Homo sapiens: one gene and its partner. The protein of the gene in region 1 interacts with the protein of each later gene in a biochemical or structural test. Each region holds a gene or a part of one and is shown on either strand. Other genes may lie near its edges.

Region 1 (4,160 bases):
AAAATCTTACATATCTTGTGCTTGATACATAGCTTAATAAACACGAATCACATTGAGTGGGTGGCTGCACACATACCCTGATTAGGGGCACAAGAAAATATTAAGGTCCTCAAACCTGTGACTCACGAATGACAGAGGTTTCAACCTCAAGTGGCTATAGCAGCCAGGGAAGTGGATGGAGGGTATAAGACAATAGGGGGTGGTGGAGACTGTGGCAAAATGAGAACATACACTGCTTTTAAAGGAGAAGCATTTCTCAGTTCTGTAGAATTATTTCCATGTGGAAATACAGGCTCAGAGCTGCTAGTCTTTTGTTTCTTTTTTCAAGGGAATCTAAAAGTCCAGGAATTTATATAAAGTATCTTATTTTGTCATGTTCACAATGGTTTTGATTAAGTAAAATTCCATGTGAGTAAAATTAAGCTTATCTAATGGCTACAAACTGGATCTTCAGTCTGTAACCTCTGTAACATAGTCTATTTAAGAAAAGACATATAAACAAGAGCTTGCATATATTAATTCAGTTTAATCATATCAATTCTTAAACAAAAAACTTCCTCCAAGAGACAATAGTTCACAGTAACTGCAAAGCTTACTCACAATTTTTAAAAATATCGCTCATGCTTAGCATTCAAAGAAGATATTATAGAATAACTGTAAAAACTTTTACCAGGAACATCAGCTTCTGACTTGAAAAATTACAAATACTGAAGCATTTTGGTATCAGACACAGTAGTTTTGACATTGTCTGTTCATTTGATGAGTTTCTGGAAGTTTGGAAAATTGTACCTCTATAATTGGATAATGCGCTTATTCTAAACTAAACATTTTCAAATGTAGAAAACAAACTAGCAAGCTACACATACAAAGAAAAGCCCTCTAAGACAAGCTTTCCACATGTTGAATGCCAGCATGTGCACCGTGAATCCTGGAAGACTAGAATTGATACATACGCTTGGCTTGAAGTCTTACACCCCAGGCTCAACGATGGAGTTTGCATTCACCTACACATTAATGACAAACTCTGGGTTAGTATAAGAGAAGCCAGCAAATTCATTTTGGTCCAAGTTCATGATGAAGAGTTTATCAGTGGGGGTCAGTTCCACAGGCTGTCTGGTGAACTCTTTGTCGAAGTTGGAGGTGTCTCTCTTGTCTCTCTGCCAAATGGAAAGTAAACACATTAACACAGCGTAAGAAGAAAGACACAGGACCAAGATACGCCAGTCATTGGGTGGCTGATACCATCTCATGAGCAGAGTCAGAAAGAGCCCTGTGCTGAAAATTTTTAGCAGCTGCACTCCACGCACTGGCTTTCATTTCACATTGTATGTTGGCTTGGGGATAGAAATGTGGTGGAAATTTTCTAAGAAAAGAAGTAAGTCATTGAATGTCAGTTAAGAATTGCCATAAAGTGGTGTGTGTGTGTGTGTGTGTGTGTGTGTGTGTGTGTGTGTGTGTGTGTTGCTGTATTTTCTTTGGCTTTAGGATGAATTGAATTGGAAGCTACTTATTACCATGCTTAATGTTATAGAAATAATCATTAGGTAGAGCGTCCTGGAGAAAACCATTCAGTAGCAGCCCAGGTGGCTAGAAGACCTCTTTCTCTGAAAAGGTGAACTGCTGCCCATCTACTCTGCCCCCAAGAAGGCAGAATGGCCATGTGGAGAAATCAGATCACTGCTTAATGAAAGGAATTGACCACCGTCAGCTCGAAAATCCACCCACAGTCTAGAATTGGGTGTTTATCAGGCAGAAGTTCTCTCCAAAGACATTTTTAGCATGTGTCAACAAACTATAAGAGAGAAAACCCAAAGCTTAAAGGAGGGTGTGTAAGGGGAGCCTTAAAACAAAACAAAACAAAACAAAACAAAAGAAACTCAAAGCAACTCGATTCTCCTAGTAAGTCTGGCATTTCTTTTTTTGTTCAGTAGGGAGGTGGAGAAGAAATTAACCCCCATTTACTAGCAATTGCTTGGGGCAAGTCTCACCAGGGAACATCAGAATGTGGGCTAATAAAGGAATCTGTATGATGCTCCGACCTCTTCAGGGTCCTTGCAAGCCTCTTGTCTTTCCTCATCATCACCACACCCACCTGGGGCAGGTGGAGCTGGAGTCCTCACCTCCTATATATGACATATGAGAGAACCGAGGCACAAGCAGGCAGGGTGGCTTGCCCAAGATTTCAGTGGGTTCCTGATTTTTACCTGACCACATCGCTGCTATGTAGGCCTCATCACAGTCTCTCGGACTGGAGGGACAACCCCATGGCTGTTTTATTACAAGACAACCAGGGAAGAAGGCCTTGTATTCCCTAGTGCCCTGCACATTCCCGGGCTGCAGCCAAAGTTGCCTCAGATTATAAAGGCCAGGGGGTCGGTAAGGATTCACTGACTCATTAGCGTTTGAGCCATCACCACCCAGGCTTTAGGTTTAGCCCCCTAATGGGCACTAGCTGTTAAGGATCTCTCATTGCTGGGTTCACTCTCCTTTGCAAAAGACCTTTTACAAGACTTGCTTCTTTGTGGCTGCTCCCCTGAGATAGGTAAAATGTCTCTATGGAGTTCCCTCCTTACTCTTGCCAAGTCTATGTGAGGGTGTGGGAGTGAGGTGGGCACACTGAACTCAGGAGCACACGTGGGTATGTGTGGCTAGAGTGGGGCAGGCTAAGATGCTGATGGAGCTGTTTCCTGGGTAGGGTCCATCTCTACCATGTCCCACCTGCCCTTTTTGTCTTGTCCTGCTTGCTGTTAGCCTGTGGGGTGCTATAGGAGTTTCCATCCCCCAGGCGCTCGGCATGTTACTTCCGGTGTTCACAACAAAGCTCGAATGCCTCCTCTTTAATATTGTCTGTGCATCTCTCTCCCAATCCCCACAAGTCACACTTTAGCATCCTTTAATTATCTTGATTGCACTTATTGCTTTCAGAAATTGTCTTGTTTATTTATTATTTCTCTCCAAGAAACAATATTCTTGGAGAATTTCTTGGAGAGAAACAATAAACAGGGTCCTCATCTGCTTCTTCACTAGTGTATTTCCAGTGCTAAGAATAGTGCCTGGCACACAGTAGGTTGTTTGTAATTATTTGTGGAATGAAGGAAGACTTGGGATATGCCTCTATCCTTTTTGCAACTTATAATTGTCCCCGAGCCAGAAACTTTACTCTGAGGCAAAACAATGGAATTGATTCCCATTGATCCTAAAGGTCTCCCAAATGGGCCACTGTCCCTTTTGAACCCCTGTATGAACTGAACTGTGTTAGGGCCCCTAAAGGTCTGAGAACTCCAGGACAGTGTGTGAGCTAAAAGGCAGGTATATTTGGAGCTAGAAGACACAAAGCTGCCTTTTTTTTAGGTCTCCCCTGGTCTCATCAACCCTATTTCGCTTTCCCTGCCTGTGGGCCTCTTATCAAAGATTCCCTTCTGACCAGCCCCACCTTGGAAAGCCCTGCCCCGTTTGTTGTGCTGGTGATGGCTAATGCTTCAGATAACCACATGGTCCAGACAGGACTTGCTTTTATGGACTTTGTCCTGTGGGCAGATCCCCAGAGAAAATACTCCTGGATTTTACCGTAGAAGTTGGGAGAGAATAAGCTTCTCTGTTGAGATCATTTCTTTGAGGTTGATAGCATCTGAAGCCATGTGAAAACAGTAGCACTCATCCAAGGAGGGTTATTAATTCTACTGACCTCCCATTAATCCCCCAAGAAGGTCCTTGTTGCTATGGCCCTGTCCTCTCTTCAAAAAGCTCTGTTTCTCAGTTTCTTCTGCACTGGAAATGTGGATAGAAAAGGAAGTGGTAGAAATTCTGACTTTCCATGGAAAGTTTCTCTAAAACAGACTTTGGCTTGAGTATCTATTTCTGCAAACTATTAAACTTTTGAAAAATAATGGCAAGAATTTGGAAAATGTTGAGTGCAGTATTTATAACACTATATTCCTTCCTTCCTTCCTTCTTTTCCTTCCTTCTTTCCTTCCTTCCTTTCTCTTTCTTTCTTTCCTTCTTTCTTTTTCTTCTTTCTTTCCTTTCTTTCTCTTTCCATTCATCCTACATTGTTTTCTAAAGTTGTCTCAGATCATTTGTCAATGGCCTAGTGTTTCTCCATGGTTTTTATCTTCCTGAGAGCATGTCCAAGCAAAATGGGATCATGATCCAACCACCAG
Region 2 (7,307 bases), on another chromosome or scaffold:
TGGCCGGAGAGAACACGCAGCCCGGGGTGGGCAGGGGCCTCAGCTCAGGACAGCACCAGGGCCCTCTGTGCTTGCTCAGGGCCTGGGCTCCACACACATGGGCTCGGAATCGACAAATGCAACCACCTAATCAATGCCCCGTGTCAGTGCCAGTTTGTGCCAAGCAGAATGGGAGGGATAATTGCTGGCACCAGGTCCGGCTTGGGGTGGGTATCACCCACAGCTCCATAATTGCTAGGCGCCCACTGCAGAGCCCCTTGAGTTGGGGCTTCCCAGCGACCTGGCCTGTACCTGCTGGGCAAATGCCTGTGTCACTGACCCCTGTGGCAGCTGGCATTCTCCTCCGGGAACGGGAGCCAGCCTCCGGTGACATGGCCTCAGGCAGGACCACGGTTCTCTGACACAGGACACGAGTGCAGCAAGGGGGGCCCACACAGGACCTGTTCCATGGAATCGCCACAGGCGTCACGCTGCCCCATCCACAGAGGCAAATGTCCCACAGCCCTGGTACCTGGTGGGGCCCGGCCTGGGCCAGAGTGGACAGACCTGGGCCTGGCAGGAGCCCTGGGGAAGTGAGTTCAAGTTACACGGTTGACTATAGAGACAGCTGGAGTGCGCACAATTGGCCAGACCACCCCTCCTGTTTCACAGATGGGGAAACTGAGTCACGGGGGACCAAATAGCCTGCTCACCCCATGCCCCTTCCAGACAGGGTGCAGATAGGGCCCCTCCCATCTCCTGGATGGCCGCGGCCCCTGTGCAGAACTTCCTTCATGGGCACCTCGCTGTCTGGGGGCCTCTTCCCCAGGGAGTCTCCTGGTGGTGGCCGTGTTGCCTCAGGCTCACTGTGCACTAGGCAGGTCACGTCGATGCCGCCTGAGGGGCAGGGGTTACCACCCTGTGGTTCAGGTGAGAAGCTCCAGGCTCAGGAGTGTCCAGCTGCCTGGGCAGTGTTTGGATCTCATGCCAGCCCCTGCCAGGAGGCCCTGCTTCTCCAGCCCAGCCCACGCCCACCAGGAAATGCCCCTATTTACTCCCTTGAGGCAAAGGCCCTTGGGTGGCTAAGCGTCCCCTCTCCCAGCACTCGGAGCTGAGCGTCCCCTCTCCCAGCACTCGGAGCTGAGCATTCCCCTCTCCCAGCACTCGGAGGCACCTGCAGTTGCTCAGCTGTTCATTGAGTGCTGGGAGTGGAAACTCATACGCTGAGCGGCAGTGACGCTGCGGAGCTGACAAACCCCACAGCCCGCCCGGTCACCTGCTTCACCGAGGGCCACAGCCCCCCCGGGGTCAGGTGGCCACAGGGGTCCTGGCCATGTGGGACATCTGTTCTGTGGCCCTGCTCAGGATGGCACCCGGCGGGGACTGGCCCTGGGGCCGAGGCATGGGCTCAGCCGCCGCCCTGCAGGGACGTAGCCAGGGACCTCTTCCCAGCAGAGGGACTCCCCCACTCATCCCCAGAATACTGAGGGGCACGCTGGGTGCCAGGCTGGCAGGGACCCTGGGGATTCTGCTGTGAGCTGGATGGGGAAGGAGTTCCTTCCTAAAATGTGGAGTCTGGAGGCCACTCTTGGTAAAGTGCTGGCCCCCGGGGATTCTGCAGTGAGCTGGGCATGGATTCTGCAGTGAGCTGGGCTTCACTCATGGTGAAACGCTGGGGTGACGGCAGACAGCCCAGAGCTTCTAGCAGCTCATTTCTGTGAAGCCTCCAGAATCCGGCCTCAGCCCCCAAACCCGCAGGCGTTGCGCCACCGTCACGGGGAAGGCGAGTGACAGCGAGTGTCCCCTATGCCCCCACAGCTCGCTCCCAGGCTGAGCTCTCCGGCCATCCCCCCCCTTCCCCATTGCAGCCATGCCACCCCTCCTTCTCCCCACCCAGGAACTGACAGAGGAGAGGGGCCCCGGATGGACAGGGACAGCAGGGCAGAATCCCAGCTCCCAGATCCAGGGGAGGGGGGATTGGGTGTGGGGACGGTGGTGCAAGGGGTGGTGCCAGGGGTGGAGGATGCATGGGGAGGGCTGGCCCCAAGAGTGCAGTGTTGGGGGAAGGGGGCCAGGTGGGCCTGGGACCCAGGGGCGTGGCTTCAATCCCCCTCCCACCAGGACCTTGGGAATGGCCTCCAGGAGCCTGTTGTGGGGAGGCCAGGGTCACCAGCTGAACCAACTCGACCAGAATCGCACAGCGGTGCCCGCTCCCCTACAGCAAGACGTCACCCAGGGGTCCCCACGGAGGAGGCAGGGAAGCTCGAGGGTCCCAGAGGAGCATGGAGCATGTGCCACACCACACCACACTACATTACACATGTGCACCATACATGTACATACAACAGACTCCCCACATCACATGCGCACACTCGCACACCATACATGCACACACACACACCACACTACGCTATGCCACACACGTGCACCATACATGCACACCATGCCACACTACACACACGACACTACACACCACGAACCACACCACACCATATCACACACCACACACTGCGAGTCGATCTGGAGATGGAATCGCTGTAGCCAGGCGGGGCAGCATGCAGACAGGAGGGCCTAACACAGGCAGGCGCAGCAGGTTCACAGAGGAGGCCCCGGGAACCTGCCTCCTGCCCAGCCCGGAGCACCAGGACCCCCCAGCCGTCCCCCTAGGGGCTTGTGGGCCCAGCCTCTTCCTGGCCTTGCCGGCCTCACAGCCCCTTGTCCTCCCATGCCGGCCCCATCCTCAGCCGCAAGCGCTCCCAGCACACCATGTGGCTCTGCTCTTGGTGGCAGGCACTTCCCCTTGCCGGGTCTCAAAGGGGACCCTGGAGCAGACGGTCTGGAGACCCCTTCCTGCCAGACACCCCTGGGCCGGGGCTATAAGCAGGGCCACCAGGGTCACTCCAGGCTGGGGCAGGAGAGTGCTTCCCTCCAAAAATCACCGTGGACATAGCGGGGCCTCTGCACACTCACCCTCGGTGTGCTGGAGTCCTCGGCGGTGCTCCTGGCTGGGCGTGGGGGCTTTGCTACCAGTCTGCCCTGGGTCACGTCTAGAAACCTCAGCTGGAGGCGCGGGTCGTAAAGTCCTGACACTTCCTGTTCCTCTCAGCTCCTCCTTGGAGGAAGTGGTGGGTTGCACCACCGTGGCCCTTCACCCCTGCCCCTCTCCGCTCTACAGCAGCTCTGATGTCAGAGAGCGGCCCCTTGAGACAGGTGGGACATGTCATTTCTCACATGAGGTCCCGGCGAGAAGGACCTGCTTCCATCAGATTCACACTTGGGAGAGGGGCCCGGCCTCCAGGAGCGCCAGGCAGAAAGGGCACCCATTAGGAAGAAGAACACAGAGGCCATGGGAGTGAAAAGTTTGATGCTGGAAAGCAACAGTAGCACATTCTGCTACAGAGCGGAATGAAAAACCCTGGGGAGCAAATTCCTGAGCCAGAGAATGGAGCGGAGGAACCAGCCAAGGAGGATAAAGAGGTGGGAACAGGCAAGAAAACCTGGGTGCGTGCACGCATTGACATCCACCTGCATGTGAGGGCGGGAGGGGACAGAACAGGGACAGCGAGGAGGAGACACTCAGGTCACAGGAGGAAGGCTGCGGATCTGGGCGGGGACGTGGATTGCGAGGCCACTGAACACCCCAGGGATGGATGGATGAGGTCCTGTTAACTAGGGACATTAGGAGGATACCACAGAACACGAAAGGGAAAATACTACAGGCTCAGAGAGAGAGAGAAGGGAGAGGAGGAGGAGGAGGAAGAGGAGGGAAAGAGATTATACCTAGAAAAAAAACCCAAATCAGACATCTTCAGAGCAAGGACTCAGACACATTACTACCCTAAACTCTGTTTTATTTATTTATTTATTTTTATGTTTTCAGTTTTTTTTGAGACAGAGTTTTGCTTTTGTCACCCAGGCTGGAGTGCAGTGGCGTGATCTCAGCTCACTGCAACCTCTGCCTCCCGGGTTCAAGCAATTCTCCTGCCTCAGCCTCCCAAGTAGCTGGGATTACAGGCACATGTACCACCACGCCTGGGTAATTTTTGTATTCTTAGTAGAGACAGGGTTTCACTATGTTGACCAGGCTGGTCTTGAACTCCTGGCTTCAAGTGATCCATCCACCTCTGCCTTCCAAAGTGCTGGGATTACTGGCGTGAGCCATGGCTCCCGGCTCCTAAACTCTGTTTTAAAGATGTCTTGCAGAAATAGACATGAAGAAATCCATGAGAAATACAAGAGCAGATGATACAAAGTTGGGCAAAGAAATAAGTAAAAATTATGATGTCATAACCTGTTGATTTAAAAAATAGTGGTAAGAATATTAACGCTGTGAAACAAAACGCCTAGAGGACTGGGTTGGGAGGGGCCAGGGAGCACATTGCCGTTCCATCCTATCTGGGGAGGAATATAGATGCTTGTCAGTGGGCATTTTGATAGAAAATATCTAAGTATATATGCTAACAATTCAAGAGTCTCCTTAAGAATAAAAATAGCATGTATATACCTGAAAAAAAATATGACAAATCTTTATTTTGGGCATGGTGGCTCAAACTTGTAATCCCAGCACTTTGGGAGGCCGAGGTGGGAGGATCACTTGAGCCCAGGAGTTCGAGACCAGCCTAGGCAACATTTGGAGACCCAGACCCTCATCTCTACAAAAAAATTTTCTAAGAATTCGCCAGGCATGGTAGCACGCGATATGGTCCAGGCTACTTGGGAGGCTGAGGTGGGAGAATTGCTTGAGCCCAAGAGGTTGAGGCTACGGTGAACCATGCTTACACCACTGCACTCCAGTCTGGGTAACTGAGAAAAAAAAAAAAAAAAAAAGGCAAATCCTTTAAAAGAAAAAAGTAAGGGAAAATAGAACAAACAAGAAAGGTAAATAAAAACCAAACAATAAAACATTGGGAATAATTTCAAACCCATCAGGAATCACAGCACCTGTGAATGGGTTACATTTTCTTGTTTTAAATCAACAAGGTCTTGCGTTGGGTTTTAGAAATAAAGAGACAAAACAAGTTCCAATGAAATGTTCTCTGTCAAGGGTATCTTCTCATTACAGACTTAGCCTAGAAAATAATGAAGAAGGACAGAAAGAGAATACCATTCTACTACACCCGCTGATGACTTAAAGTAAGCAATGACCCTCGCTGCGAACGTCACGGACGCAGCAGACGTTATGCACACACCTTTAATGAATTAGTCTTGATGAAATAACAATAGAAATCAAGAAAAATAGAAAGAACAAATGTTACTATTGAGCCTGAATCAGGTCGAACTTTTTAGATCTACAAAGAAGCATCAGGAGGGTGTGTTAGATGACATCGTAGGGATGCAATTAGCAAAATCCAGGCTGAAGAAACCCTCACAAGGCAAACAGCACAGTACAAGAGGAGAGACGAAGGGAGAGAGACCCTTTAGATTAAGAGATTTAATCTCTTAATAGAACCAATTGCAATGCATGGACCATATTTTAAAATCATTGTTAATTGTTTTAAGTGTGACAATGGTTTGTGGTTATGTTAAAAAGTCCCCATCTTTTAGAGTTACATGTTGAAATATTTGCAGATGGTGCAGTATAATGTTTCAGATTTATTTCCCAATAAAGAGGGGTGGGTTGGGTTGGGGGAGAGTCGGGAGAGGTGTTGATACAACAAGATCACCTGTGAGTTGATTATTTTTGAAGCCACTGTTGGGGACATGGGGCTTCACTAATCTATTCTCTCTACTTCTGTAGATGTGTGAAATTTTTTGTAGTAAGATTAAAAAAACATTTCAAGGAAGTGTAAAGTTATTATTTCGCGGGTATAAAGTTCCCGTTTTGCAAGATGAAATGGTTTTGGAGAAGTTGGTGGTGATGGTTGCACAGTACTAAGTGTCCTTAATGCCACGGAAATGCATAACTTCAAATGGTTAAAATGGTGAATTTATGTTATGTATATTTTATCACAATTAAAAAGTAAAAAGTGTAAGAAAGGCTCTCTATCAGATAAACTGTTAAAAGAGAACACTGAAGGCTGAAAATAAAGAAACGGAAAATACACGTATGTGCTAGAAAATACTAACGAAGATATCGTGTAACATCAAAAAGATAGAAATCAAAGCAAAATGCATCAAATGGACAAAGGAAGATGTAGCCAATGAGAGTCAGAATCCACAGACAGTTCAGCAGCCATAATCCTTTGTGTGCCGAACTTCAAAATATATAAAACAAAGACTGACAAATATATAAGCAAACTGACACAGCCCCAAACAGCAAATATCTCTAACAGATCTCTCTCAGAAATAAACACATCAGGCCAGTCGCGGTGGCTCACACCTGCAATCCCAGCACTTTGGGAGGCTGATGTGAGCGGATCACCTGAGGTTAGGAGTTCAAGACCAGCCTGGCCAACATGGCAAAACCCTGTCTCTACTAAAAATACAAAAATTAGCTGGGCATGGTGGCGCATGCCTGTAATCCCAGCTACTTGGGAGGCTGAGGCAGGAGAATCACTCAAACCTAGGAGGCAGAGGTTGCAGTGAGCCGAGATTGTGCCACTGCATTCCAGCCTGGGTGATGAGAAGGAAACTCTTACTCAAAAACAAAAACAACAACAAACAAACAAGAAAAAATCAAATAGAAATGCAAATTTGGCAGGTAGAGAATTTGAGGAACGTAACCATTCGTCTCCAACTTAAACACAATTATGTTACAAAGTGGGACAATGATAAACACATAATTACTAGACCACAAGGGAAATAACCACATATTCTAAAGCACAAAGACCATAAGGAGGCCAAATTCACGGACACAATTGAATGAAATTAGATGCTGTCCAAAGGATGGCATGAAAGAAAAAAAACAGCACTCCTGAAAAGTGGACCCAAATATAGCCTAGATCACATACATCCATGGTGCCACACTCACGCTACGGGGTAATGAATAAGAGCCCTTGAAGTGCTGCTCTGAAGCCTCGTGACCCACAGATCCGTAACACTGAGATTCTTCTGAAAAGCAAAATGTAGAAGGAGGCATTGAAGAATAACATGCACCTCGTCCCTGCAGACCCACACACCCCTAGAGCAGGACAGTGGTTACCCCTGAAGACAGAGAAGGCTACGGGCCTGGGAGATGGAAGCAGAGGGCTTCAAAGTTCTATTGTAGAGTTTTCTTTACTAAAAAGGAAGAAAAAGTTCTGGGCAAGTCAGGCAACATGTTAAGATTTGGTAAGATGAGAGGTAGCTGTTTGGGGATTGGTACTAGTGCTCTCCATGCTGTTCTGTATTCTTAAAATAGTTTATATCTTTTTTTTTTTTTTAAAGGAGCTAGGAGGAAGTGACTGCAA

The links. Proteins that work in one complex are often made in the same cells at the same time.
Region 2: of the proteins of PRKCB (region 1) and ITGB2, one has a biochemical effect on the other in vitro, tested with the Homo sapiens proteins (one study listed by BioGRID).

What each region holds. Positions count from the first base shown.
Region 1 is NC_000016.10:24,216,958-24,221,117, reverse strand, and holds the end of PRKCB (protein kinase C beta type), read right to left. Parts: 3' UTR 1,158-4,160; coding exon of another isoform or gene 1,005-1,157; 3' UTR 507-1,004; downstream 1-506. UniProt on the Homo sapiens protein: Calcium-activated, phospholipid- and diacylglycerol (DAG)-dependent serine/threonine-protein kinase involved in various cellular processes such as regulation of the B-cell receptor (BCR) signalosome, oxidative stress-induced apoptosis, androgen receptor-dependent transcription regulation, insulin signaling and endothelial cells proliferation.
Region 2 is NC_000021.9:44,917,872-44,925,178, forward strand, and holds the start of ITGB2 (integrin beta-2 isoform 1 precursor), read right to left. Parts: upstream 3,029-7,307; 5' UTR 2,950-3,028; intron 1-2,949.